7 separate regions of the Homo sapiens genome follow, and regions 1, 2, 3, 4, 6 and 7 are each linked to region 5. The links come from fine-mapping of genetic effects on gene expression. A gene starts in region 5. Each other region holds a variant in brackets. All regions are shown on one strand. Distances are from middle to middle.

Evidence for each region. PIP is the estimated chance that this variant, and not a neighbour inherited with it, causes the effect.
Region 1: its variant is fine-mapped to the expression of PRKCA in whole blood (TOPMed, PIP 0.98).
Region 2: its variant is fine-mapped to the expression of PRKCA in whole blood (TOPMed, PIP 0.98).
Region 3: its variant is fine-mapped to the expression of PRKCA in T cells (TOPMed, PIP above 0.99). The same link has a PIP of 0.9 or more in sigmoid colon.
Region 4: its variant is fine-mapped to the expression of PRKCA in whole blood (INTERVAL, PIP 0.97).
Region 6: its variant is fine-mapped to the expression of PRKCA in whole blood (INTERVAL, PIP above 0.99).
Region 7: its variant is fine-mapped to the expression of PRKCA in blood mononuclear cells (TOPMed, PIP above 0.99). The same link has a PIP of 0.9 or more in anterior cingulate cortex, breast, cerebral cortex, tibial nerve, visceral fat and whole blood.

Annotation. Positions count from the first base shown.
Region 1 is chr17:66,452,155-66,456,221 of GRCh38, reverse strand. The region is part of intron 2 of PRKCA (protein kinase C alpha); the gene reads right to left. Among named protein-coding and RNA genes, the nearest start is that of PRKCA-AS1, 37 kb to the right of the region's middle. The variant T/C (reference allele first, on the strand shown) is at 1,864.
Region 2 is chr17:66,252,595-66,256,648 of GRCh38, reverse strand. No RefSeq gene overlaps it. Among named protein-coding and RNA genes, the nearest start is that of APOH, 25 kb to the right of the region's middle. The variant C/T (reference allele first, on the strand shown) is at 2,349.
Region 3 is chr17:66,817,815-66,821,881 of GRCh38, reverse strand. No RefSeq gene overlaps it. Among named protein-coding and RNA genes, the nearest start is that of CACNG5, 15 kb to the left of the region's middle. The variant T/C (reference allele first, on the strand shown) is at 1,535.
Region 4 is chr17:66,419,980-66,424,046 of GRCh38, reverse strand. All of the region lies in intron 2 of PRKCA (protein kinase C alpha), which reads right to left. Among named protein-coding and RNA genes, the nearest start is that of PRKCA-AS1, 5.2 kb to the right of the region's middle. The variant AT/T (reference allele first, on the strand shown) is at 2,347.
Region 5 is chr17:66,300,381-66,304,447 of GRCh38, reverse strand. It overlaps PRKCA (protein kinase C alpha), which reads right to left and starts at 1,835. Exons shown (of 17, transcript NM_002737.3): 1 at 1,424-1,835. The coding sequence starts at 1,596. RefSeq lists an enhancer at 540-1,041.
Region 6 is chr17:66,367,774-66,371,840 of GRCh38, reverse strand. The region is part of intron 2 of PRKCA (protein kinase C alpha); the gene reads right to left. Among named protein-coding and RNA genes, the nearest start is that of PRKCA-AS1, 47 kb to the left of the region's middle. The variant G/C (reference allele first, on the strand shown) is at 1,910.
Region 7 is chr17:66,809,515-66,813,581 of GRCh38, reverse strand. It overlaps PRKCA (protein kinase C alpha), which reads right to left. Exons shown (of 17, transcript NM_002737.3): 17 at 2,839-4,067. Among named protein-coding and RNA genes, the nearest start is that of CACNG5, 24 kb to the left of the region's middle. The variant G/C (reference allele first, on the strand shown) is at 2,472.

The DNA of each region.
Region 1 (4,067 bases), 150 kb before region 5:
GACAAAAGTCTGGAATCAAGGCATTGATGGGGCTGGTTCCTTCTGGAAGCTCTGAGAAAGAATCTGTTCCTCATCTTTCACTCCTAGTTCCTGGTGGCTCCTGGCAAATCTTGGCATTCCTCGGTTTGTAGATGCATCGTTCCAATCTCTGCCTCCAGTATCTCGTGGCCTTCCTCCTGTGTGTCTCTGTGTCTTCACCTGGCCTTCTTACGAGAACAACAGTCAATGGATTTAGTGTCTACCCTAATCTACCACCACCTTAACTATTTACATCTGCAGAGACCCTATTTGCAAATAAGGTGACATTGTGAGGTTCTGGACGAGCATGAATTTTGAGGGAACATTGTTCAGCCCAGTACAGAGAGAAATCAGAAAAGAGAGAGCAAATAAATGAGTGTAGCTAGGCCTACTGCACAGGCTGATATGAACGTCTCACTCCCTTCTCAGATGTTCATTTACAGATGAGGAAAAGAGCAGAAGGCAGGCAGGCACTGAAGTTTCTTCCCACCCTTGTGTTCTTAGATATTAAGTGGAAAGAAAACCCCACACAGGTAAGATCCCAGTTAATCAAAATGTCACAGCAGGGCCTTTTCTCCAAGTCCACTAAGTTGATGGATGAGTAAGTTTGACTCAGCCAGACTTCCATCACCTTTAAAAGTTAATCAGTGTTTACAGAATAAAAGAGATGAAGATAATCCTTAGAAATTTGGAATGATAAATGATCATAAAGCCTATGGCTTCGCTGATGCTTCTGCATTTACCATCATTTTCCTGGCAGCTCCAGTTCAAAGTGCTTCGGGGGACCTTTTCTTCTCACAGCATCAACATAAATGGCCGTCTTCTATATGTGAGCACTCAGCACTCCTGGCAATTTCGTGGCAGCTGTGTGGCGATAAGAGGCCCTTTATTTTTTCAAGCACATTTGTGAAGTGTGTGGGGAGCCGACTAAAATTAATGAACTTTTCTTGCCAAAAAGAACTAGGCTCCAAATTCGGTCATGTATTGCCAAATAGACGGTGTGAATGAAAGTCAGTTCGTGGGGAGAATAAGAACATTTCAAAGGAGCACAAGTTGAATACAAGCAGTCCCTGACTCACTTATGTGGACTTAAAGATATTCCTCATCTGGGAAAAATAAGTCCAGACCTATAGCTGCGTCGACCACAGTTCCCTCCATCCCCAGTTTCTCTCAGCCCTCTGCATCCCCTCAACCCCCACCTTCCCTCCACTGCTGCCTGGGTCCGCCATCTGCCGGCCCTTCCATCCTGTGGTCAGGCACCTGCCCTCACCTGGCTCACCCCAGGGCCCACAATTGCACAGAGTAAAAAGGAGAAAGGAAGGAATCTCCAGTAGAAGCTTCTCTGCCCTGGGGCTGGCCACCTTCCAAACCTTAAACCTACTGATACGGTTTAGCTGTGTCTCCACCCAAATCTCATCTCGAATTGTACCTCCCGTAAATTCCTACACATTGGGGGAGGGAGCCAGTGGGAGTTATTAATTGAATCATGGTGGACTGTTCTCGTAGTAGTGAAGAAGTCTCATGAGATCTGATGGTTTTAGAAAGGGAAACTTGTTTCGCTTGGCTCTTACTCTTGTCTGCTGCCATGTGGATGTGCCTTTCACCTTCCGCCATGATTGTGAGGCCTCCCCAGACACATGGAACTGTGAGTCCATTAAACCTCTTTCTTTTGTAAATTGCCCAGTTTCGGGTATGTCTTTATCAGTAGCATGAAAACAGACTAATACACCTACCCAGATCCTGCCTTCTCCAACCCTAAACACCCAAATCTGGGTTTTCTACTAAAAAAGAAAAGAATGTTTTATCATTTATCCCAAATTCCATGACACTCACCTCCATGGTCTT[T/C]GCTGTTACCTGGCATTTTTGCAGCCCCAGGTCCAGCCTGCATTTGTCTGCAACTGAGGCATTAGGCCCCTGGGACTGTCAACCCCAAAATGCTTTCCCCAGGAAGCCAGCACACTGACCAGGGAGTCCACAGGGCCTTAGCACCTACAAAGCTGCCACATGCAAGTGACTGCCCAGAGAGGGCAGTGGGCTTGGTTCATCCAGCAGACTGTAATTGAAGCTGAATGCAATTAATTGTATAATTTTGAGTCATTTCAGATTAATTCTGCTAAAATCACAACATGAAACTAGGGCATGAGGAGGAATTGTTTTCAGAAAGAAGCCAGACATAAATAAAGTCTACATAAGCACTGGCTTCACATCCAATTCTGACAGTTTAGCATGATAACAACTGAGGTTATCAATAAACAAATTAATTTAGCCCAAATACACAGAAATCATATCCCACAGCTTTAAAAGCCTGGATGCTCCTGCTATTGGATCTGAAAAAACCCAAAGTATTCTGACTTGCATGTAAGCTAAATGGTCACACTTAAAACCTTAAAAAATATCTGCGTGTTTACATCAGGGAGAGAAAATTTGAGTAAAACCCAATGTTAGTCAGAACAACCCAGAAGAGTCCCAGGAAGCCCTACTCTGATTTTTCTCCCCAGTGGATGCCCAGCTCTTAAACCAATTCGACCTACAGCAGACGAGGGCGGCGCAAAGGGAGGCAAGCAGGGCAGTTCTAAAGATCAGGGGGGCTGGGCGCAGTGGCTCACGTCTATAATCCCAGCACTTTGGGAGGCTGAGGTGGGCGGATCACCTGAGGTCAGGAGTTCGAGACCAGCCTGGTCAACATGGCGAAACACGTTTCTACTGAAAACACAAAAAATTAGCTGGGCATGGTGGCGGGCGCCTGTAATCTCAGCTACTTAGGAGGCTGAGGCAGGAGAATCGCTTGAACCCAGGAGGTGGAGGTTGCAGTGAGCTGAGATCAAGCCACTGCGCTCCAGTCTGGGTGACAAAGCAAGACTCTATCTCAAAAAAAGAAAAAAAAAAAGAAAAAAAGGATCACGGGACCCAAGGCAAGGGGACTGTGGATCTGTACGAGGGCACATGGGTTCTAGTTCCCAGTCTTTTCCTGGGATTCCCTCAAGTCCCCAATGCCTGCCTTACCCCAGAGCCTCTGTTCCAAGTCAGGAGCTCCATCTTCAGTGGTTTCAAGCTTGGGATATTTCCACATCCGTGACCACCTAGCCAGTGGGAAGTGAGGGGAATGAGGGCTCCAGTTCCATTTCCTAAGCCACTGTGGGGAAAAATATTCTTGGCCTTCCAGGCAGGACTCCTAAATGCCACCAACTGTACAAATGTGGCTGAATGTGACACACAGCACATCTCGATGCTACAAGCTCAATGGGGGTTCAAACAGGCACTTGCGGTTAAGACACCAGCCCTTATAAACCTCATAATTTCTAGTTATGTGTTTTGTTTGTTTTTTTGTTTGTTTGTTTTTGAGACGGAGTCTCGCTCTGTCATCCAGGCTGGAGTGCAGTGGTGCCATCTCGGCTCACTGCATGCTCCGCCTCCCAGGTTCATGCCATTCTCCTGCCTCAGCCTCCTGAGTAGCTGGGACTACAGGCACCCGCCACCACGCCCAGCTAATTTTTTGTCTAGTTATGTTTTGTGACCCAAACAGTCACTGTAGAAAGGAAGTTCTGGAACCCACTGGTGGGTTTCTTGGATGTTGTTTTCATCACAGGTGCAGAGGCCGCATTCCTGAAGGCTTCAGTGCAATAGGAACAAGCCGGGCCAGTTCCTATCAGGCAACAAAAACACTCCTCGAGGTTCTCAGAACGCACAACATTTCAAGAGGAAATAAAAACCCCAAGATAAATTTCGGCAGATCCTTATTCTCGCTATACACAGCTGCACTTCTCCCTCCTCACCCTGCTTCTTCCCTAGTTCTGTCTTCCTGTTAAGCCTCACAAAAACAGATGATCCTTTCCCGAAGGGACCACATAGAAGGTTCTGGAAGCACCTGTGCTGCACCTGGATTCTGGGGCTCTCCATTCCTATCTGAGGTCTGGCTCCTTAGCAAACGCTACATTGGCTAAGAAAAAGATGAAGACTTCAATGAGGTCATCATAGGCACCCAAATAAAAAGAAAGGAACAGAGGTGCAGACAGTTCTCTGGAGAAAATGAAGCCACCGGCAGTATTTTC
Region 2 (4,054 bases), 48 kb after region 5:
CCTAATCTGAAACAGGGGCACGATAACTTTTGCCTGATAAAATGTTGTAACGTGATATGGCAGTTGGGAAAGATCTAGTACTTAATAAATCTTTTTTTTTTCTTTTTCTTTTTTTTTTTAGATGGAGTCTCGCTTTGTCACTCAGGCTGGAGTGAAGTGGCATGATCTTGGTTCACTGCAACCACTGCCTCCCAGGTTCAAGCAATCCTCCTGCCTCAGCCTCCGGAGTAGCTGGGATTACAGGTGCCTGCCACCATGCCCGGCTAATTTTGTGTGTGTTTTTAGTAGAGACGGGATTAAGTCACGTTGGCCAGGCTGGTCTCAAACTCCTGGTCTCAAGTGATCCACACACCTTGGCCTCCAAAAATGCTGGGATTACAGGCGTGAGCCACCGCGCCTAGCCAATAAATCTTCATTAATCTCAATGTTGCCTTCTTTGTGGCAGAGTCTCTTCCTGTTTAGCTTAAGGACTTGTAGTGTTCCAAGGAACTACAGCGACTAGATGATACTGCCCCTAAAATTATGTACATCTTATCTTAGAACCTTTAAAATAAGACATCTGTCATTTCTCAAGAAGGACAATAATAAGATCTGTAGTAGGTAGCAAATTTTGATCCTGAGCAGGTAGCTTAGGACGCCAATTTCATTAACTTCCCACCGGTTTATCTTCTGGGGCAATGAAGGATTAATTTAAAAAGTACTACATCCTGAAGACTGAAAAGAGTTTTACGGAAGAGCATATACAAGTTCATGAGTACCTTCTCTATTGGGTATATGTGGGCTGTGGGCTGTGGGTTGAGAGCAGCTACCCAGAGGCATAAAAGCATTCTCATAAGTTGCAAAGCAGGTACAACGCTAATTGAATTTGTTCTGCTCAGATGACATACTCTCCAGGAAAGAAAAAAAAAATGTTTTCCTGCTGTGAAATTGGTTTGCTGGTGTTCTGACAAATGAAAGCCTTATAGTAAAGGCATCAACTTTAATTATTCATTTCTATTTGCTTAAAGACATATTCTTATGTGACATACATATGCTCATACATTTCCTTGTTGTAACAACATGAACTAAATAAGTCACTTTCACACATAAATGAAACTCCATGAATTATTATTGCTAACGCACGTTCTCTATATTATTCAGCTGGAGAAAAAGTAATGTTTGTGTAATGGGGAAGAATTACAGAGCGAAAGATGAGGATCTTTTTAGTGTTTTTTTCAGGTAGACAGGAAAAAAGGCAAAGGCTACCATCTGCTATTACTGATGATATTACTGAGGAATTGATACATTTCTATCTATAGAGATTTATTAATGTACAACTGGTTCTACAACTTTATTTGTTCAGTCTACATAACCAAAATGAGGCTTCAAGTCCGGAAGTTCCCTGTTACCCAAGGCAAACGTATTAGGGTCTGTTCTGCCATCTGGTGTTCTTTGAAGGAAACATCCACAGAGGCATTATGAGATAAATAGCCAGTGTTGCCTATGTTGGTGGTGGGTGTTACAACCTCGATGAAAAGCAATTCCAGAATCTCTGCCAAATTCCAATAGGAGATAATTTGAGAATATATATTAAGAAGAAAAATATACATACCCTTGGAGTACCAATTTCACTTTTATGAATTCATCTTTTGGATATATTTATACATGTGCACAAAGAAATGTATATAAAAATATTCCTAGCAGTACTGTTGGTAATAGCAGAAGATTGGAAACAAGCTAAACATCCATGAGTAGGGTACCAGTTAAATAAATTGTGACATATTCCTACAATGGATATAGTATAGCATGTTGTTGTTTGAAAAAAAAGTCAAATCTATATTTACAGATATGAAATGATCACCAAGACACACACACACACACACACACACACACACACACACACATATATATGTGTATATATATATATTTTGTTTTGTTTTGTTTTGTTTTGTTTTAGATAGAGTCTCACTCTGTCACCCAGGCTGGAGTGCACTGGTGTGATCTTGGCTCACTGCATCCTCCGCCACCCTGGTTCAAGTGATTCTCCTGGCTCAGCCTCCCAAGTAGCTGGGACTACAGATGCATGCCACCACACCCGGGTAATTTTTGTATTTTTGGTAGAGACAGAGTTTCGCCATGTTGGCTAGGCTGGTCTCGAACTCCTGACTTCAGGTGATCTGCCCGCCTCAGCCTCCCAAAGTGCTGGGATTACAGGCATGAGCCACCACACCTGGCACCAAAACATTGTTAAGTGAAATAAACATGATCAAGAACAATGTGTATCGGTAGGGTGTGGTGGCTCACACCTGTAGTTCCAGCACTTTGGGAGGCCAAGGGGGGCGAATAATCTGAGGTCAGGAGTTCGAGAC[C/T]GGCTTGGCACCAACATGGCAAAACCCCGTCTCCACCAGAAATACAAAAATTAGCCAGTCATGGTGCATGCGCCTGTAGTCTCAACTACCCTGGAGGTTGATGCAGGAGAATCACTTGAACCCAGGAGGCAGAGGTTTCAGTGAGTCAAGATCATGCCACTGCACTCCAGCCTCGGCAACAGAGCAAGACTATCTCAAAGAGAGAGAGAGAAAAAAAGTAACAACATGTGTAATATGCTGAAATTTGTATAAAAATGTTCATAATGCATAGGATATTTCTAGAAGGTTTAATCAAAAATAAAATTTTGAAGGCCTCCCCACAACCATAGGAATGGACTTCCTCCTTGGCCAGGACACCTAAAATTTAGCCTGAAAGACTTGTTCAGGCCATGATGGGGAAGTGGGGGTCAGATATGCCTCATTATACCCCTCCAGCATTAACATCAATGCAGACTTTTAAGTCTGATATGAAACATTTACAATCTAGTCTCACTGAAGCCTGTTACTGCTACTTGGAGGCTTCATCTGCAGGATAAAACTTTGGTCTCCACAACCCTTTATCTTTTTTTTCTTTTTGAGACGTAATCTTGCTCTGTCACCCAGGCTGGAGTGTAGTGGCGCAATCTCGGCTTACTGCAACCTCCGCCTCCTGGGTTCAAGCGATTCTGCTGCCTCAGCCTCTGAAGTAGCTGGGATTACAGGCGCCCATCACCATGCCTGGCTAATTTTTGTATCTTTTAGTAGAGACAGGGTTTTGCCATGTTGGCCATGTTGGTCTTGAACTCCTGATCTCAGGTGATCCACCTGCCTCGGCCTCCCAAGGTGTTGGGATTACAGGCACGAGCCATCATGCCCGGCTTCACAATCCCTTATCTTAATCACAGTATAATTAAATCTACCTATGACCTGGAAGCACCCCCTAATCTGCCACTGCTTCAACTTGTCCCACCCTTCCAGATCAAACCAATGTTAATCTTACATGTATTGATTGATGTATTGTGTCTCCCTAAAATGTATAAAAGCAAGCTGCACCCCCAACCCCATCCCCTGCTGACCACCTTGGGCACATGTCATCAGGACCTCTGAGGCTGTGTCAGTTGCATCCTTAACCTTGGCAAAAATAAACTTTCTAAATTTGTTGAGATTTGACTCAGATACTTTTTGGTTTACCAAGGATACTCAAGAAAGTGGTTGGCCGGGTGTGGTGGCTCACACCTGTCATCCCAGCACTTTGGGAGGCTGAGGTGGGCGGATCATGAGGTCAGGAGATCGAGACCATCCTGGCTAACAAGGTGAAACCCCTCTCTACTAAAAATACAAAAAAATTAGCCAGGCGTGGTGGCGGGTGCCTGTAGTCCCAGCTACTCGGGAGGCTGAGGCCGGAGAATGGCGTGAACCCAGGAGGCGGAGCTTGCAGTGAGCCGAGATTGTGCCACTGCACTCCAGCCTGGGTGACAGAGCGAGACTCCGTCTCAAAAAAAAAAAAAAAAGAGTGGCAACCGTGATTGACTTTGAGGGCAAGAACCAAGGTGATCACCAGTGAGAAGGTAACTTCTCTCTCACTATTTACATATTGTACTGTAGAAATACTTTTCTTTTTTCTTTTTTTCTTTTTTGAGACAGAGTCTCACTCTTGTTTCCCAGTCTGGAGTGCAGTGGCATGACCTCTACTCACTGCAATCTCCGTCTCTTGGGTTCAAGTGATT
Region 3 (4,067 bases), 520 kb before region 5:
GCCACTGGTAAGGAAAATGGAATTCCCATGACGGGCTTATGCCCAAGAGCATCCATGCCCTGGGGCCCTGGAGGATCCAGGGAGGGCATGGTTATCATAAATCAGCCCCAAACTGGAGTTCTATTAGCAAGAATTTAGGCTCTTTCCAATGACCTGTGAAGTAGATATAGCAGTTAAAGCATCCGCCTAGCAGAGCCCTTCTCAGAAGGGATCTCCCTTTGTTCATCTCTTTGATGACGGGATGGGCAAGGTGGCCCTGTTTTGTGTCAAACAGCTTGCTCCGCTCCGCCACAGATGAATGGACCAGACATGGGAGCCTGACCCCTGACAGTAAATCCAGCCAACTTGTCAGTGACCGATGACATGGCCGGACCCACACATGCACCGGGCCATAGGATTCCCTCTCTCAGGGCAAAAGTACCAGGTGAGACCCACTCATCAATGGACGCTGATGTGAAAAGCATGATCAGAGGCTAAGGAGGGGCCAGAAGAAGTTGTGGTCGGTTGACCTTTTGAGAAAATGCAGGCTGGGGAGGAAGAAATGCACCAGGAGGTTAAAGGTTATATCCTGTGTGCTTCCATTTATATCACACTCCTGAAATGACAAAATTACAGTGATGGGGAACAGAGCTGTGGTTGCCAGGGGCTACGGTGGGGGGTGGGGCAAGATGACAAAGGGGTAGCATCGGTGAATTTCTTTCTGGATAGAAGAGTTCTGGATCTTGATTATGGTGGTGGTTACATGAATCTATACATATGATTTCATAGTCACACACACACACACACACACACACACATAATGAGTGTATTGTGTATGTAAAACCTGGTGAAATTCAAATAAGGCCTATAGTTTAGTTAAGAGTATTCTAACCCCATCTCTATTTAAAAAAAAAAAAAGAAATACAAAAAAGTTAGTCAGGCATGATGGTGCTCTCCTGTAATCCCAGCTACTCCGGAGGCTGAGGCAGGAGAATTGCTTGAACCCAGGAGGCAGAGGTTACAGTGAGCCGAGATCGCACTGCTGCACTCCAGCCTGGTGGGTGACAGGGCGAGACTCCGTCTCAAAAAAAAAAAAATTCTACTGTGTCCCTTTTCTGGTTTTAATAATGTACTAATGTTAAGTAAGGTGTTATCATTGAAGAAGCTGGGCGAAGGGTACAGGGGAACTATTTTGGCAAATTATTTTGAGTCTTAAATTATTCCAAAATAAAAAGTTCCAAAAAGAGAAAGAGGCTGAGGAGCTTACATGAGTGAGAGAAAAAAAATCCATCTCCCAGAGCTGCCTTGGCTCTAGAGATTTCCAGCCCAGAACTGCCTTGGCTCCAGAGATTTCCAGCGCCAGCCCCTGGTTGGGTCCATCTGTGTTTACTGCCACCCAAAGAGGCGGAGCAAAACAAACATCTCGTACCTAAGTCTTTGGTGCATTTTTGGTTATTTCTTTAGAGGAAAAAGATCCCCCAAAGCAGAATTGCTGTGTGTAAGCACATTTTTAAGACTCTTGTTACTTAGTGCCAAATTGCCCTCTAAAAAAGAT[T/C]GTACCAATTTATATTCCCACCCACAGGGCATGAGAGGGCAGACTTTCCCAATTCTTGCCAAAATTGGGATTTAATCTTTCAAGAAAGCATATTTTCTGCCAAGTTAACAGATAAAAACATGGTATTTCATTGTTCTTTTCCTCCAGGAATTCTAAATTCTTTTTTTGGACCAAGTTGGACTAGATAATTGGTTATTTACCTGGAGACTTGGGTTGAGTTTCTTGGTCGGTCACCTTCATGAAGTTGTATTTTAATATGCCCCAAACTTGACGAAGAACACTAAAAAAAGGCTTTATGAAATTTGATAGTGCATTTATTGTTTCAACAAAACTTCAAAATGTTGTTGAGGACATCATTTCTGATATTGCTTGGTGTCTTTTCTAGGTAATAAAATTATACTCAAGAAATTCCTTTTGGATTCAGTGCTAGGAAAAGCTTTATTTCCCAAAGGAACACATATGCTTCCTCTTTTCCAGTAATGACAATCACATAAGTGACCATGGTTCCCACTTTTATTGGCTGTTAGAAAATGCAAAGCCAAGTTTGAGAATCAACAACAGCAATTTTGTTGACTCTTGCGGAAAAGGGATGTGTTGTAGTTTGTTTAATATTGCTGTAACAGAATGCCTGAGGCTGGGTGATTTATAAAGAAAAGAGGTTTCTTTAGCTTATTGTTCTGCAGGCTGAGAAGTTCAAGGCCATGGCCCTGGTTTCAGTGAGGGCTTTTGTGCCGCGTCACCACATGGCAGAACGTCAAAGGGGAAGCAGACACCTGAAAAGGGGCAAAACCCGAGGGGCATCCTGGCTTTCACACAGCCCGCTCAGGAGGGAACTAATCTATTCCTGAGAGAACTCACTCCCTACTTTGAGAAGAGCACCATGCCATTCATGAGGGATCTGCCCCATGACCCAAACACCTCGCACTGGCTCCCAATTCTCAAACGCTGCCACACTGGAGATCAACTTTCAACATGAGTTTTGGTGAGGACAAACTACATCCAGACCACAGCATTCTGCCCCTGGCCCCATGAAACTCATGTCCTTTTCCCATGAAAAATACAATCAGTGCATCCCAATAGGCTTCAAAGTCTTGACTTGTTTCAGCATCAACTTAAAAGTCCAAAGTCTCATCTGAGACCTAAGGCAAGCTCCTTCCAGCTATGAGCCTGTAAAATAAAAAGCAAGTTATCTGCTTCCAAGACAAAACAGTGGCGCAGACATTTGGTAAATATTCCCGTCCCAAAAGAGACAAATAGGCCAATAGAAAAGAGTAACAGGCCCCACACAAGTCTGAAACACAGCAGGGCAGACATTAAATCTTTTTTTTTTTTTTTTGAGACAGTCTCACTCTGTTACCCAGACTGGAGTGCAGTGGTGCCATCTCAGCTCACTGAAAGCTCCGCCTCTTGGGTTCACACCATTCTCCTGCCTCAGCCTCCTGAGTAGCTGGGACTACAGGTGCCCGCCACCACACCCGGCTAATTTTTTGTATTTTTAGTAGAGACGAGGTTTCACCATGTTAGCCAGGATGGTCTCGATCTCCTGACCTCATGATCCGCCCGCCTCAGCCTCCCAAAGTGCTGGGATTACAGGCATGAGCCACCACACCTGGCCAAACATTAAATCTTAAAGCTTCATAATAATCTCCTTTGTCTCTATGTCCCACAACCTGGAGGCGCTGGTTCCAGGGCTGGGCTTGCAAAGGCCTCAGGCCTTTATGTCTAGTATGCTGCCATGTCTTTGTTGGGTGCAGCCCATGTGGCTACTTCCATGGGTTGCAGTTGGGTGCCTGTGGTTTTGCCAGATGGATGTTGTATGCTGCCAATGGCTCTATAGTTCTGGGGTCCCAATGGTGACCCTGCTCCACACTAGGCATTGCCTCAGTGAGAACTGTCTGTGGTGGCAGGTTTCTCCCTGGGCTCCCAGGCATTTTGATATATCTGTGAAATCTAGGTGGAAGCCACCACACTTCTACCACTCTTGGTTTCTGCACACCTGGCCTGCAGAACTAGTACCAAGTGGACATGGATGCCCCAGCCCTGCACTGCTTTGTGACTGCTTCCTGCTCAAGCAGCCCCAGGTTCGACTCATGCCTCCACTCCAAAGAGCCTAAGTGGTAAGCATTGGTGTCATCATCATTTCCATCTGACACCTCATTATCATGGCCTTTACTGTCCACGTTTCTATTGGCATTCTGGTCATAAACACTTAACCAGTCTCTTAGAAGTTCCAGCTTATCTTCTAAGCCCTCACCAGAATTGTCCTTAATGCTCCACTCCAAGCAATGCAATCTCTTTAATGCCTGTTCCTTCAAACTCTTCTAACCTCTGCTCATTATCCTGTTCCAAAAGCCACTTCCACATTTTCAGGTATCTTTATAGCAACACCCCACTCTTGGTACCAGTTTTCTGTCTTTATCCATTTTGTGTTGCTATAACAGAACACCTGAGACTGAGTAGTTTATAAAGAAGCAATTTGGCTTATAATTCTGGTGTCTAGAAAGTTCAAGATTTGGCATATGCATCTGGTGAG
Region 4 (4,067 bases), 120 kb before region 5:
TCACAGCTCTCTACACTTCTGCTAAGACAGCATTATCATAATGCTGCAAAGTGCCAAAGAGAATTGTTTTAATAAACAGGGTTTTTATGCTCTTAAAAAACTTGAAGACAAGCACTTGATTCTATTAGCTAAAGTACACTGCAGCTAGCAAAGGATTCACGGTGGAATGGAGCCACATACTGCTGTCTCCAAACTGACATCACCGGCACTTAAAAGATTGAATTCTTAAACACATTCGGCTCCAGGGAAGCGCTCCCAGACTAATTAGAGTTATCCATGCAAAGTTCTAGAACTATAAGTGTGCTTTAAATATTTTTTACTGCATGGTATGATTGTGTTTCTCAACTGGGGGAGGCCACTCAACTAAACCATAATTACTATTGCAGATTACCTGGGAAGAAAAACAGTATGCATTAAAGGCTTCAGTAACAGCCAGCTTTAAAGCACAGACAGTGACCAGGACTGTCAGATGACTTCCCTAGGGGACTTTCTTCTGAGTCAGGTAATTATTGTATGTAAATGATGCTTCTAAAGAGATCTGTAAGTAATGAACATCTTTCTTAGTCATATCATTCCAAACTATTGTTAGTAAATCCCTTGTTTATAGATAAAAATTTGAGTCCAACCTCTCTGAATTATCAAACTATCAAACCTGCAAAATCCAAATAAGGCAAGATTTCCAAATATGGGATCATAAACATGTTAAGCACAACTTTTCACTATGGTGCATAAAAGGTTGCATCAGACAAGAAACCGGGCATAAAACAAAGTACTACCAGCTTGATGACATGAGGGGCAAAATCCTCGCTGCATTCCGGTGAGACTCTCTCAGCATCATGAATAAAATTAAATCACTATCAATCCCCAACGCTTTTGCTAACAGAGTCCAGAGTTCTAAGAGTACCTCCTTCTCTGCAATAATACTTTTTTTTTTTGAGACAAGGTCTCGCTTTTATCACCCAGGCTGGAGTGCAATGGCGTGATCTGGGCTCACTGCAACCTCCACCTCCCTGGTTCAAGCGATTCTCCTGCCTCAGCCTCCCGAGTAGCTAGGATTACAGGTGCCTGCCACTATGCTCAGCTAATTTTTCTATTTTTAGTAGAGACGGGGTTTCACCATGTTGGCCAGGCTGGTCTCGAACTCCTGACCTCAGGCGATCCACCTGCCTCAGCCTCCCAAAGCGCTAGGATTACAGGTGTGAGCCACCATGCCCGGCCTGCAATAATGCTTTAATGAGGTGAGAGCACTATCTACCTGTGGTTATTGAATGAATCCAAGATTGCTTATAAATAATCCAACCACTGTGTTAAAAATAAGAGTGTCACGGTATATAAAAATGGTTTGACACGGGCTCTCTTATGTCCTAGATTGCATGATGCTGCTGGAAAGACAGGACTGGCTAAAAGAAGTTGGTCCTGTTGACTGGCTTCAGTGTGAGATTCTCTATTTCTATATTATTGCACAGAGCCCTGAAGCCAGTGAAAATCCTCACTGCCCTTCTGGGCCTTTAGAACATTTTGAAACTAACATGTCTTCAGGGCATTCCTTTATCCTTCTTCCAGATATGACATGTATTCATCCAATAATATCCAACCTATATTTATTGAGGGCTTACGCTATGCTCTAGGTGCTAGGGATACAGTTTTATGAATAAAACAAAATTCCTGTTTCATGTTCTAATCCATGACACATCAAATAATTATTAACTGAGCTCTTGAAACAGAACTGCCAATGTACTACGAAAAAGTGAAGTGGGTGTTATGAGCTGAACCTCACCCCCCAAAAATTCATGTTAGTCTCCCCTCAAATCACTCATGTTAAAGTCCCAATCCCCAGTATCTCAGAATGTGACCTTATTTGGAAATAGGACCTTTTAGAAAGGCAAGAGGGTTATATGAGGTCATTAAGGTGGGCCCTAATCTGGTAGGACTGGGATCTTTATGAGAAGAGATTATGACAAACAAGGACAGAGAGAAAACCACGTAAAGATACAAGGAGGAGATGGCATCGACGAGGCAAGGAGAGAAGCTCCAGACAAAACCAACCCCCTGCTGACACCTTGATCTTAAACATCTAGCCACCAGAATTGTGAAAAAATAAACTTCTGCTGTTTAAGCTACCCAGTCTGTGGTACTCTGTCACAGCAGCCCTAGCAAACTAAACAGTGGGTAAAAAGGAAAAAGTAGAGAAAAAGAAATTTCAAGGCCAGGCATGGTGGTTCACACCTGTAATCCCAACACTTTGGGAGGCCAAGGCGGGTGGATCACTTGAGGCCAGGAGTTGGAGACAAGCCTGGCCAACATGATGAAACCCAGTCTCCACTAAAAGAAAAAAAAAAAAAAAAA[AT/T]TAGCCAGGCCTGGTGGCGGGTGCCTGTAATCCCAGCTACCTGGGAGGCTGAGGCAGGAGAATTGCTTGAACCTGGGAGATGGAGGCTGCAGTGAGCTGAGATGGTGCCACTATACTCCAGCCTGAATAATAGAGTAAGACTCTGTCTCAAAAAAAGAAAGAAAAGAGAAGAGAAGAGAAGAGAAGAAAGAAGAAAGAAAATTTCAGAGCTATCTTTCCCTATAAAGCTGAAAATCACTTGATAGAGCTATAAAAAAAAAAAAAAAAAAAACAGAGGCTGTGGCTGAGTTCTGACATAATTACACAAACTGACAATAGAGGTAAGTGGTCAAAGGGAAAAGGGACTGCCCCTTCCTTCCAGAAAGGCAAAAACCTGAAACTGGCCCCTAAAGCAGTTCTCTGTTCCATTAGAAGAGCCTGTGAACTCCCATGACAAACACCAAAATCTTTTTACTCTCTCTCTAAATTACTCAACCAAAATCCTTTAGTTTCACTTATCTTCCTCCTGAGCAAAAGCAGAAGGCAGTATGCATGTGCCCAACTGGAGTAGCCATCAGGCAAGCATTTTATCAGGCAAGCATTTTTCAACTTCACTGGAGTAGCCATCCAACATGCGTTTTTCATCTTCATTGTGCAATGACGCTTGGACTCCGTCACCAGACAGTCATCCACCAATTTAGAACCTAGGAAGACAGGTTTCCCATGACAGCATAACAATAATGCATTATCAACAAGCTAGTAGAAATTCCAGTCCTTTCTTTCTTCAGGGTTAATTTCTCTCATTATGTGAAGGGGGTTTTGAAATTCCACAAAGGAGGGGAATGCAGGGGACAACGACATCACTGAATTCCAAAACTTCAGGCCAAAAGAGAACATTGATTTGACTGTCTTCTTAGTCCAAAACTGGTCTCAAAATGATAAAAATCGCCAGTCAAAATCCTCCAAATGTCTTTTCTTCCCTCTGACTACAAATGCTCCATGCTCCTCAACCTAGAATGGGTTACATCCCGAAAAACCACCATATATTGAAAGTATTGTCGTGCATTTAATACACCTAACACCATATCGTAGCCGAGCCTACCTTAACCGTCCACAGAACACTTACATGAGCCTACAGTTGGGTAAAATCATCTCATGCAAAGCCTATTTGATAATAAAATGTTAAGTATCTTGTGTATTTACTGAATGCTGTGCTGAAAAATGAAAAACAGAATGGTCGTACAGGTACTTGAAGTACAATTTCTACTGAATTTCTATCACTTTTACACCGTCATGAAGTTGAAAAATCTTAAGCCAAACCATGCTAAGTTGGGACCATCTGTATTAGTTCTGACTCTTGACTAAAGCTTAGACAAAGCTGATGCTTCATAAACTTTAAGAACATGTCCCCTGGCCAGGTGTGGTGGTTCACGCCTGTCATCCTAGCACTTTGGGAGGCCAAGGCAGGTGGATCACCAGGTCAGGAGATCAAGACCATCCTGGCCAACATGGTGAAACTCCGTCTCTACTAAAAATACAAAATTAGCCGGGCGTGGTGGCATACTTCTGCAGTCCCAGCTACTTGGGAGGCTGAGGCAGGGGAATCGCTTGAACTCAGGAGGCGGAGGCTGCAGTGAGCCGAGATTGCGCCACTGTATTCCAGCCTGGTGACAGAGCAAGACTCCGTCTCATATTTAAAAAAAAAAAAAAAAAAAAAAGAACACAACCCAGAATGGGGTTT
Region 5 (4,067 bases):
ACTTCCTACACCACAAAGAAGAGGTAGAAGAGTCAGGACGTCGGGCAACTTAAAAGAAAAACCAAACTACTGCTGCTCTAACTAGAGGACCTAGAGCTCCTTTAGTTCCAGCTTTCAAAACTTTTGTGTGGTGACGGGGATCTGGGAAGAAGGGTCACACACCTTTTGAGGATCAGATGAAAGCTGTAATTCTCTCACCAGGAAAAAGATTCACAAACACAATTTCCCTCAGTTTTACAGGGTTCAGAGACCCCTGAAGCCCTTCTATGTATCGATTCTCCATAAGCCCCCAGGGACCCTCCGAGTTAAGAATGCCTGAATTCATTGGCGATTACCTGATCTCTGACCTCTGGCCCTTATATTATTTTTCTTAAATAAGGCCTCTGCCCTCATCAACAGGGTTACAGGTCTAATCTCGAGTTGACAGGGTCTGTTTCATTTTTTTTGAGACGGAATCTCGCTCTGTCTCACCCAGGCTGGAGTGCAGTGGCCCGATCTCGGCTCACTGCAGCCTCCGCCTCCCGGGTTCAAGCGAGTCTCCCGTCTCAGCCTCCCGAGTAGCTGGGATTACAGGCGTGTGCCACCACGCCCGGCTAATTTTGTATTTTTAGTAGACGGGGTTTCACCATGTTTGCCAGGCTGGTCTCGAACTACTGACCTTAGGTGATCCGCCTGCCTCGGCCTCCCAAAGTGCTGGGATTACAGGCGTGAGCCACCGCGCCTGGCCGACAGGGTCTATTTTAAATGAGTCCCTCTGCCCTTGTGCCATTTGCCTGCTAGAACTCCCCCTCCCCCACTGCAAGCTTTCAACAGTTTGCTCTCTCTCTCTCTGCTCACTCAGAAAAGTCAGTCTCTCCGTGCCCAGTAGATGCAGCCTACAGTAGGCAGGGGCCCAAGATGCCAGCGCAGTCCAGCCCGATGGGAAGCACAAACACAACCCCCCCACCCCGAACGCGCCCAGCCTGGCTCGCCAGCAACTTGGACCGCGCGCAGTGCAATCGCCGCCGCTCCCCCGTTACTCCGGGGCGCGTTTCTCCGGGAACCTTTGCCCCCTTAGGGCCTCTCCTCCTCCCCTGTCCCCTGGGCTCACACCCCGGCAAGCGGCCGCTCCGCTGGGTGCGTGCGGGTGGGCGCGCCCGGGGAGGTGAGGGGCCCGGCCCGGAGAGGGATCCCCTTCGCCACCGTACGGGGCCAGCCTCCCTCTCGCGCCAGGGGGTGTGTGTGGCGGGACGGCGACGTCCCGGGAGTCCTGCCCGCCGGTGTCAGGGCCGGGCGCGCGTGTCACTCCGGGCGAAGAGTTCGGACTCCCGCCGGTTCCAAGTTATCGGAGTGAGCCAGCCCCGGGGCGGACGCGCCGGAGCGCCGGGTGCCGGGACCCGGAGGCGGGGAGGAGCGGGGCAGGAGTGCCCGGCCCGGCACCTACCAGATGAAGTCGGTGCAGTGGCTGCAGAAGGTGGGCTGCTTGAAGAAGCGCGCGATGAATTTGTGGTCCTTCACCTCGTGCACGTTCTTCTGCCTCAGCGCCCCTTTGCGGGCGAAGCGGTTGGCCACGTCCTGAGACGCCGTGGAGTCGTTGCCCGGGAAAACGTCAGCCATGGTCCCCCCCAACCACCTCTTGCCTCCGCCGGGGAGCTGCGGCCGCGGAGGGCCGGGTGGGCGGGGGCGGCGGGGGAGAGGTGCGGGCTCGGGGCGACCCCGGGCGCGGGGCGCGGGCCGGTGGCCGAGGTCGCGGCGAGGGGGCGCGGCGGGGGCCGGGGAGAGTCGGGCTGGTGCTGCGCGGAGCGGGAGCGGGAGCCGGAGCCGCTGGCTCGCCCGCTGGCCCCAGGCTCACTGACAGCCCGGTGCCCGGCGCTCGCGCTTCCTACTCGCGGCGGCAGAGGCGGCCCGGAGCGGCACCGCCCACCGCGCATGCCCCGAGCGCGAGGCCGCGAGGACGAGCGGCGGGGGCGCGCGGGCCGGGCGCGCGCGGGGGTGCGGCGAGGGTGCGGCGGCGGCGGCGCTGAGCGGACCGGACCGAGTGCGGAGGAGGCAGCGAGTGCCTTGCGGTGCTGGGAACACTGGGCAAGGGGAGGCGGCGGCGGCGGCGGCGGCGGCGGCGGCGGCGGCGGCGGCGGCCGGGGGAGGGCCGGCCCGAGTGGGGATGCGGGGGAGGAGGCCGGGAGTGGCGGGTCCGCGCTCCTCCGCCGCCTTTTTCTTTCCTCCCCTTCCTGCGCCCGGCTCTCCTCCCTCTCGCCCTCCTCCGCCTCAGTTCTCCTCCTCTTCTTCCGCTCTTGCCGCCCGGCCTCCTCCTCTCCCGGTCTTCCTTCTCCCACTCCCGCTCTCTCTCTTGTCGACGGGCTCGGAGTCCTGCGCCACCCGTGCCGGGCCGAGAGGAGCCCGCGTCCGGGAGTGGGCTCCACGCGCAGCCCCTGCCCCGGAGCCTCCCGCCCGGTGCTCACCTCCTAACCCCTCAGCACCCGCAGCAGGGAGCCCCTTCCCCATCCTCAGGACCCCCGGTGTCTCCAGGGCACGACGCCCGTGTTTTAGCTGCCTGTACCAGCTTGAGGTTTCACCTGGCCAAAATGTCACTTTCATCACGTGTGCACTAAAAGACCTAGCCCCTAGACCTTCCTACAGGAGGAAGAGAGCGATTTTTAAATAATTAAGCATTGACCCTTTCCCCTACCTTCTCTTCTTGACCTATACCTTATTTCACCTGCGTGTGGTAGAGACTTTTAATTTGTACGTCGGGCATTTATCACCACGTGGGATGGTTAAAGGACTTGTCTTAGGTATTTATCCCGTTATTCAATGGCCACCAGAGCGACGATGTTGATTATCAGGCTTTCTTGATTTTACAAGTCCAGGACCTTAATTTAGAAATCATTTTGCATCCCAAGCTAATTACTGCAATACTGTCAGGTGCAGAGTGCAGCCAGTACGTTTGTAACTTACCAAGTAAAACTGCCTGTGAAAGAGTAGCGGGCATGGCTATGCAAAGGACGCAGGTGGGGATGCACCAGCTAATCACTCGCTGAATATTTATCAGGTCTGCCTGGAGGCCGCTAAAATACATAAGGGAAATAATCATTTCTCAGCGTTTCATTGGTGTTTTGTTTTATTTGCCAGATTCACGAAATCCCCAAAACGACTTTACGAGCTAAAGAGACCAAGAAAGAGAACACGTTTGATCCTTCAATAAATTTATGTTGAAAAAAAAAACTTTTCTAAAATACTTTCTTAGAGCATGTAACATAGGCCAAGTAGAGCTAATATTGTTTTCTTTGAGATTGCCTAATTGTGATGCTTGATGATAGGAATGTCCTTTATATTTTTAACAAATGGAAGCTCTCCTGACTGGCCGTCAGTGGTGCATGCACTTGACTGATCCATTTACAATCTCTTGAGCCAGTCTTGGTGCTTCAAGAGCCTGCACCTGCCTGGTATTCTAGCTGGTCAGAAATTTCGCCACTCATGGTCGCCCCTCGGGTCCAAGGAGTCAAAAAGGGAAGAAGCAAAGAGGAATGAAGAGCAGGGCATGTTGGGGAAATAGTCCCAATTCTCCATGAAACACTAGAAGCATCTCAAGCCATGGTGGTTTATTGCTTGAAAGCAGAAATCAAATGGAACATAGTGGAATGAAATAATTTCTTTTCTCATAGTCGTCTTTTATCTAAGACGGAGATCCTGGCACATTTTACAAAGACAAGCTTATTTCTATGTCCCTGAGGCTTTCATAGGAGGATGGAGAGAGCTGGAGGGTGAAGTTGCTGATAATGGAATCCTGAGTAAAGTCATAGGAAAGACAAGAACAGAATGAGCCCTGGCAGCAGCCTGCGAATCTCCTGTGTACTCCATGGAGTGACTGTCTTAGCTGTCAGTAGATCAGATGGAACAATGTGTCTGTTTTCTTTTAGGTTGTGGCTTTGCATTCTTGCCTCAGTTGTTAGTGTTGTTCCTGGTGGGTACGAGGAGGAATGATTGACTGGAAGTCAACTGATTCATGGTTGGGCTGGGCATGAAAGCATCAATAGCCCACATCTTAGCTCAGTTGGGGAGAGGGGACTGTGCACCCAGAGTGGGGATTT
Region 6 (4,067 bases), 67 kb before region 5:
ACCACTTTGAAGGTGAAAATCCACCGTCTGGATTTTAGGCAATATTGCCAGATGACAAAGGGTTGGGTCATTCGATGGCACCCTGCCTGCTCTAATGTATCACCTAGTGGCCTTTAAAAAGCAACATATATATTACAGATAAAACAGTCACAGTGTCGCTTTATGCCAGGCCCTATTCTAAGATTTTTACACATAGTAATTGATTTCAATCTTATAGCCATCCAGTGTGGCTAGTGCTCTTATGCTGTTATTATCCCCATGTTACAGATAAAAAAACTGGGAGTTAAATAATTTGCCTGAATCACAAAGTTAGAAGTGGCAGAGCTGAGATGTAAACCCAGGCAGTCTGGGTCCAGAGCTATGCTGTTCATCAACCAGAGCAGACTGTCTCTCTCAGGTTCAAATCTCACCCCCGGTTTCCATTGAGGAAGATCATTTTGAATGAGTCTTATATGTGGATCTGAACTTCAGAATGGTCATTTCACAAACACACAGAAAATGGTGAAAGGCTCTCATGCAGAACAGGTGGTTGAAACAATTCTCTCTTCATTCTGAACTCCTCTCAACCTGATCAGTGACTCCAGGGTAGGGTCAGGCAGTTTTAGAATCAGGAGATGAGAATTCTGGCTGCACTGCTGATGCTAAGTGATTAACTCTAGATTTAACTCTTCATTGGTTTAAAATGTGATATTTTGGCCAAAGATGGGGGAACTTGGAAAGAAAAAACTGCAAAAATACATACATCATATCTTATTTGCTACTCGCATGCTATAATCAGATATAATCCCAAATTTGTTCTCTTTTGTTGGAAATAAACAGGATGTGATTTGTTTCGGAGATTCACTAAGGAGAAATGCTACAGGCAACATGCCCTCTTACAAACCAGCCTGCCCCTGCATCTAGCTTATCTGTATAATACAGCACCTATGAGATTACACTCTGGGTTTGAACCCTAGCTTTGCTGCTTACTCTCTGCTCTCAAGCAACTTAACTTCTCTAGGCATCAATATTCTTCTCTGAAAAACAGAAAAATAGGATGGGCAGTGGTGGATCGCTTGAGTCCAGGAGTTCAAGACCAGCCTGGGCAACATAATGAGACCCCGTCTCTACAAAACATAAAATGTTAGCCGGGCATGGTGGCATGCACCTGTAGTCCCAGCTACTTGGGAGTCTGAGGTGGAAGGATTGCTTGAGCCTGGGAGTTCCAGGTTGCAGTGACCTATGATCACACCACTACACGCATCTTGGGCGACAGAGTGAGACCCTGTCTCAAAAAAAAAAAAAAAAAAAAGAAAAGAAAAGAAAAAAAATAGTATCAAATCTATAGCGCTATTGTGAAGATTAAATAATTATACAAAGTGCTGACCTCACATACTGCACCTGGCAATGCCTCACTAACTGTTAACCACTGTTCGCCATCCCTGTCATTAAAGCTTATCAAAATAGCCAGCTATGGTGGTGTGCACCCGTAGTCCCAGCTACTCCAGAGGCTGAGGCAGGAAAATTGCTTGAACCCGGGAGGCAGAGGTTGCAGTAAGCCGAGATCATGCCACTGCACTCCAGCCTGGGCGACAGAGCAAGACTCCATCTCAAAAAAAAAAAAAAAAAAAAAGTATCAAAATAGCTTTATTTATCGCTTCATTCAATATAATTATGTCTGTGCCACTGTGGAGGTTGAGGGGATGTGGAAGGACTGTCCTTACCGTCAGGAAGGCTTCCATCAAGTACAGGGAACAAGTAGGGCGACCACATGTTTGAGTCTGCCCAGACAATCCTGGTTTATGACTGTTGTCCCAGCTTAATTATTAATGGCTCTCCTCCCTTCACTTTCAAAAGTGTCCTGGTTTAGAGGATAAATATGTTCACCCTAATGATAAGACAACTGAGCTAGAAATACCTGCAGTGCTTG[G/C]CAGTACCAAACAGGTCTCCTGGCAGTGATGCAAACAGGCTGCTCGAGTTCTTTGGGGATGGAAAGCTCCATTCTGCATGTGGAGGGAAGGAAGGACACTTGGAGGTAGCAGTGGCAGGGGCTCAACAGAGGCAGAGGACACCTGGGACAGGAATGCAGCCAACTCAGATGGAGGATGGAGAAGCCCAGCACTCAGTGGGCCATCACGCCACCCATCCCCTCTGTTCTCCCAGAAAAGAGTGGACAGAGCCAGATCCAATAGTGAAAACGGGCAGGTGCATTGCTTATTGCTCAGCAATGCCACAGGTTTTACTGGACTAGTTGGGATAGAGATGGAAAATGCTTGGGGATGAAATAAGTACCTCAAGGCATCCAAGTTAAAAAATTTCAAGCTTATTAATCCATCCCAGCACCAACTGCTTTAATCTGATCAACATCTAGCTGAAGTCAGCCTCAGGGAATTTTAATAAGAGGACAGGAAGAGGAGGAATCACCTGCAGAATCACTGATACCCCTCTCACAGGTCCCTCCTCCTCCCCCAGGTCCCTCCTCCTCCCCAGGTGCCACCCTTGCTGTTTTAGGAGGGAATTTTGGAACCAGACAGCAATCTTCACATGATCCTCCCGTGGAAGTACTGGGATATCTTGGACCTCATTAGGCTGGGGTAGTCACCAAAGCTCATAAAAAAGAGGCAAAATCTTGGAGGCTCTGCAATAGCATCATCTGTGATGAAACTCCAGGACTTTACAGGTTTTACCTGGGCCTTCCCTTAGGCAGAGTTTCTGATCAACACAAGCTGAATTATAAGCTGTATTATCTGAATTATGGCTAACACACAGCTCTGGCCTAATGCCTACAAGCCACCCTTTCACAACCACTTGGGAAGAAGGTGACAGAAAAGGACCGATGGAATATTCTAGAATGAGATGCTTGAGAAGAAAGCTCACGGAATCATGGAGTCAACCCCCCTCACGATCTACAGATTACGAAACTAAAAGCTAGAGAGGTTGAGATGTCTCCTGGGTCAGGTAATTTGGGCCAGGCCAGGGAGCAAGACTCAGGCCTCTAGCTAACCCCTTTACTCTAAAACCAACTAAGCTGAGAGGTCAACATGAATTGCAGTACTTTACATTTGTATAAAACTTAATTTGTGAAATTGTGTCCACATCTATCTTCCCATAGGAAGCACCTTTTCTGTCTTTATATTATGAACGAGAAACATGAAATATGCAGGCTAAGAGACCAGGCATGGTGGCTTATGCCTGTAATCTCAGCACTTTGGGAGGCTGGGGTGGGCAGATTACTTGAGCTCAGGAGTTCGAGACCAGCCTGGACAACATAGCGCAATCCCGTCTCTACAAAAAAATACAAAAATTAGCCGGATGTGGTGGTGTATGCCTGTAGTCCCAGCTACTCAGGAGGCTGAGGTGGGAGGATCACTTGAGCCTGGGAGATGGAGGTTGCCTTGAGTCGAGATCGCACCACTGCACTCCAGCCTGGGTGACAGAGACCCTGTCTCCAAAAAAAAAAAAAAAAAAAAAAAAATATATATATATATATATATATACATATACACACACACACACACACACATATATACACACACATATAGATAAACACACACACACACACATATATGTGTGTATATATATAGGCTAAGGGATTTGCTCCAGACCAAAGGTCACTGGAATTGTCAACAATTGAGCCTAGATTTTCAAAATCCCCAATCACCTACAGTAATTTAACTTAAAATGCACAGAATTCTGTACAAGGTAAGAATTGCCAAAATTAACCTTCAATCTCTTACACAGATGTTCTGGTAGAAATGCCACTGAATGGATGGCTGGGATCCCACGGTTGGAGTTCTGAGTTCACAGTATTGACCAATCTGCCAAGTACCTCTCAGAACAGTATGGTGATGTGATGTTACTCATTCATGTTACTCCCTATGAAGAGGAACTGCACCTGTAAGTTATTTTATAAACACAGGGAATTCATTGTAACTGATACCTCTTAAGTGCTTATTTAGGATTAGCATGCAACAGTTTATTGAGCAGCTATTTTGCAGAGGGTCTTTCACCTGTTCACTTTAGGTTTGTGAGCATAGTCTCATAAATTGGTATCCATTTAGCAAATGAGAAGACATAATTAAGTTGAA
Region 7 (4,067 bases), 510 kb before region 5:
CACCCACTCCCTGCAGGCAATGCCCTGCTCTCTGTGATGTGCACTCCCAGGATGGGGACAGAGTGTGAAAATAGATGGCCTTGGCCTTTGCCCGTGTGCATTAGCATTTTAGCTGAACCATAATTTCATCCCCAGAGCACACAATAAGCCAGGGGCAGGGGGGAAGCTCAGGGAGTTAAATAATCACTCAAGTGTAACCATAGGCAGCCATCGCCTCTAGATTCTGGGCTGAAGGACAGAGGTTGAGAACTGGTGTTTCCTAGGCTGAAGCTCATCATGAGTTTGAGAGATGATCTTTAATTAGTTCTTTTTTGTATATCTTATCTACTTCATTAGTGTGTGAACACCTCCAGGGCAAATCCCATGGCCCAGTAAGGGTGTCTGGAACACGTTGCTAGGCTCAGAGCAGTTTTGGGAACGATTAATTGACTCAGTCATTCAATGAACATTTTGAGCTCCTATTATCTACCAGGCTCTGCTCTAGGCACTGGGATGTAGCAGCAAACAGGATGGACAAGCCGGCTCCTCTTAGAGCTTCTATTCTCATGGGAAAGGGTGTGCGTATACACACACACACACACACACACAGAGAGAGAGAGAGAGAGAGAGAGAGAGACAGAGACAGAGAGAGAGAGAACTCACTCTCCCCAACCATTGAATCCTTGGTCCCAGAGCTGGGCATGTGAGGATGAAAGGCCATGAGGAAGGCTGGGTGATGGGAGCCACAGAGGGCTTTCAACAGGGAAGGGGCCTGCTCAGGCAAGGTCCTGCTGGCTGCTGAGCAGAGAGGGCCATGAGGGTCAAGGAGGCCAGAGAGAAAGAACAGGGGAGATGGAGAGAAGGGGAACTCGGAGTGTGTTTTAGAATAGGGTTTGTAACAGCAGCAGCGCCGACATTTGGGTGGGATGACACCTTGTTGAGGGCTGGGGGTATCCTGTGCATGGCAGGATGCTTAGCAGCGCCCCTGGCCTCTACCCACTCGATGCCAATGCAACTTCCTTCTAGTTATGATAACCAAAACAGTCTCCAGGCATTGCCAAGTGCCCCGTGGGTGGCTACATGGCCTCTGGCCGAGAACCCTGACTTAGAGTAGCCCCAACAGTGCCTGCTCATGAACTTGATGGGCATGGTGGGCATGTGACAGGGAGGCCAGTACTGGACAGAAGGACTCGTTTTTGAGCATCCACTTTGGGTGGCGCACAGTGCCCCTGGAAGAGCAATTGTCCACTGCCTGGTGCTCAGGTTGTCCCTGCTGCCTCTGTGGGGCCGGGAGGACCAGCCATATTGGATACACCCGAGACCTCCCTGCAGGGGTAAACTTGGGTGGAGCTACTCAGTTCCTCGGGTCACCAGCTGCCTGTGAGGATGCTGCTTGGTGGCCCACTCTGCTTCATTCCGCATTGCAGCAAAAATGAAATAAAACAGCACACTGGCGGAAGCAGAGGGCATGCTCAATGGCCATGGTAAGCTACTCTGCTGGGCAACGTAACGTGACGAATAGCCACAGCTACACACGTATGTGAGGTCAACCAGCCCGGAGTGAAGGTCAGGGCCAGCCCAGTGGGGCAGAGACCACATTGCTCTGAAGACCTGAAAATTGCCCTTTGTTTTTCTTCAAAATAGCTTCCCCGCCAGCCCTCGCATTGGCAGCTGAAAGAGCCTTCACTTCCAGGAGGTTGAGTGTGACCGCGGCATCTTAGGGAGGGAAAAATCCACTGAGAGGATGCTGACACTCGAGTAATCTGGCTGGGAGCAAGGCCCAGAGGGAAGAGAACGCAGGGAGGCATGTGTGTGGATGCAGAGTGTGCTGGGAGGAACAGGCTGGGCTGGGCGGCTGCAGGATTAGGGGGCTATGGGAGGGAGGGTGGCAGCAGTGGGTTGAAGCCATGAGCACGAGGGGAGAGCATTCCCCAAAAGGAGGTGAGGAAATCAGCAAAGATTGACTTTACCAAGGTTGGATCTTGGCTTTGGTGTTTGTTGTTGATTTTTTTTTTTAAGAGACAAGGTCTCCTTCTGTCACCCAGGCTACAGTGCAGTGGTGCAATCGTAGCTCACTGCAGCATTGACCTCCCGGCCTCAAGTGATCCTCCCACCTTGGCCTCCCAAAGTGCTGGGATTATGGGCATCAGCCACCATACCCAGCCTGTTTTAATTCTTTTTGAGGACAATTCCCTCTATTGCGTTGAGTTGTTAAGTGCTGGGTATTTTTGAATGTTCCACATTTGAACATTTCCCCCAATTTTTCAACCGTGAATAAATGCAGAACGAGGCGGCTGACACTCAGAGTGGGGACGGTCCTGAAGCTGCATCCACAGTGTGGCCAACGGGATGTGTGAAAAATACCTATTTTTGGAGAAAACATCTCCAGACTTGAGCAGAATTCATTCTGGAATCGTTCCTTCCAGGGGAAGGGCACCATCCAGCCTTAGATGATGTCATCAGTTGCTGGGCATCCCTTGCAGTTTGGGGCA[G/C]AAGACTGTAAGCTCCGTGCAGGCAGGGGCCATGCCAGCCTCTTCTTCTCCAGGGCCTGACACAACTCCTGGCCCTAAGCAGGGGCTCTGTGAACAGTGCATGAATGAATGAACGCAGGACCTGCCAGAACGCCATCCCAGTCACTGTCTGGGCTTTGATTCAAAGCAAGATATATTTTTTAAGTAAAAAAAAAAAAAAAAAAAAAAAAAAAATGCCACTATAAATGGAGGGTCATGCCTGAAAAACAGGTGAAGAGATGAAAGTGTTCTGCGGAGTGTGTCTGAAGTCAAATGCTATTTTTTGAACACTGGAGGAAAAATAATTGCCATACCGCAAAGGGATGTAAATAAGGCCAACTACACAAAGGAATGATCATTATCTTTATTCATACACACTTGCTTCCAAACTACAATTAATGTTTCTAACAAAGCGTATCATGCAAACGGAGATTAGAGGTTATACAAACTGAAAAAAAAAGCAATGCAGTAATTTACACATCCGTCTCCTCTGCGATATAACCAAATGGTGTTTGACGGTTGAATGGCCTCTACATTTTGTCAGTAGGTGCTTATACAGAAGGAAAAACCTCAACCTCCGTCTCTTCCTCCAAACAAAGTTGGGGCTTATATGATGTTTTTCAATTAATGATTTAAACGTGGTATGTCCTTCACACACACAAATCATGTAGCAAAAGCAATGACTTCAAATGCTTCTGTTTATAAAAGATATTCTGAAAGACCCTAACAGAAGGGATGTGAGGTTAATTTTTAGAAAACCTTTAGACTCAAAATAGTAACTGCCTTCATGATTGATTTTGAATATTCTAGTAAACCAACCCTTCAAGAAAAGAATGATATTCTTCCAGGAAGAATATCAACAAAAGTCTACAATCACAGGAATGGATACTCCTAAAGTTAAGCAGAGGTGACAAAGACACAGTCGTTTAATCAGAAAATGCAAAGCCACCTTTTATCTTATTTTAGAAAAAAAGGTTCTTATAAAGTGGACTTGACACCTATTTTCTGAAAAGCCGAGTTCTGTCTACTCGCGTAAGTGGTAACTATGAAACAGACGTCAATAGGCACGTTTGCTGCTGCCTCTTATATCTTGGGAGATCGAAGTATTTCTGAGTTGCCCAGTGGGCAAAATCCTTACAGGGCATCTCTGAATCTTCACCCAAGGTGAGAGACCTGGGGACCAGGCGGGTCTGGGCACAGAGCCAAGGAAGCATCCTCCTCCTGCCAAAAGATGGCCACAGAGCCTCACGGAGCAAGGAAAGGGGTCCCAGAAACCCCTGGGAATCCTATTCCAGGGCTGCCTCTGGATGGGGGACACTAAAAATGTCTTTCCTGTGGTTTGGAAGTTTCTAAACCTTAAGCAGTTGTCCCCAGTGTCTATTAAAAACTCGCAGAGCATCAGTCGGCCAAGTTCCACCTGAACTTGCAGTCATTCCCACGTGGACTCCATACCCTAGGAGCATGGGAAAATCTGGCAGTGGGAGATCAGGTCGGGGGTGCTCCAGCTGACCCAGGCTAAGTCCTCCTACAAGCTCCAGGGCATTGGAATCTTAGGAAATCGTCAGTTGCTTTGTTCTA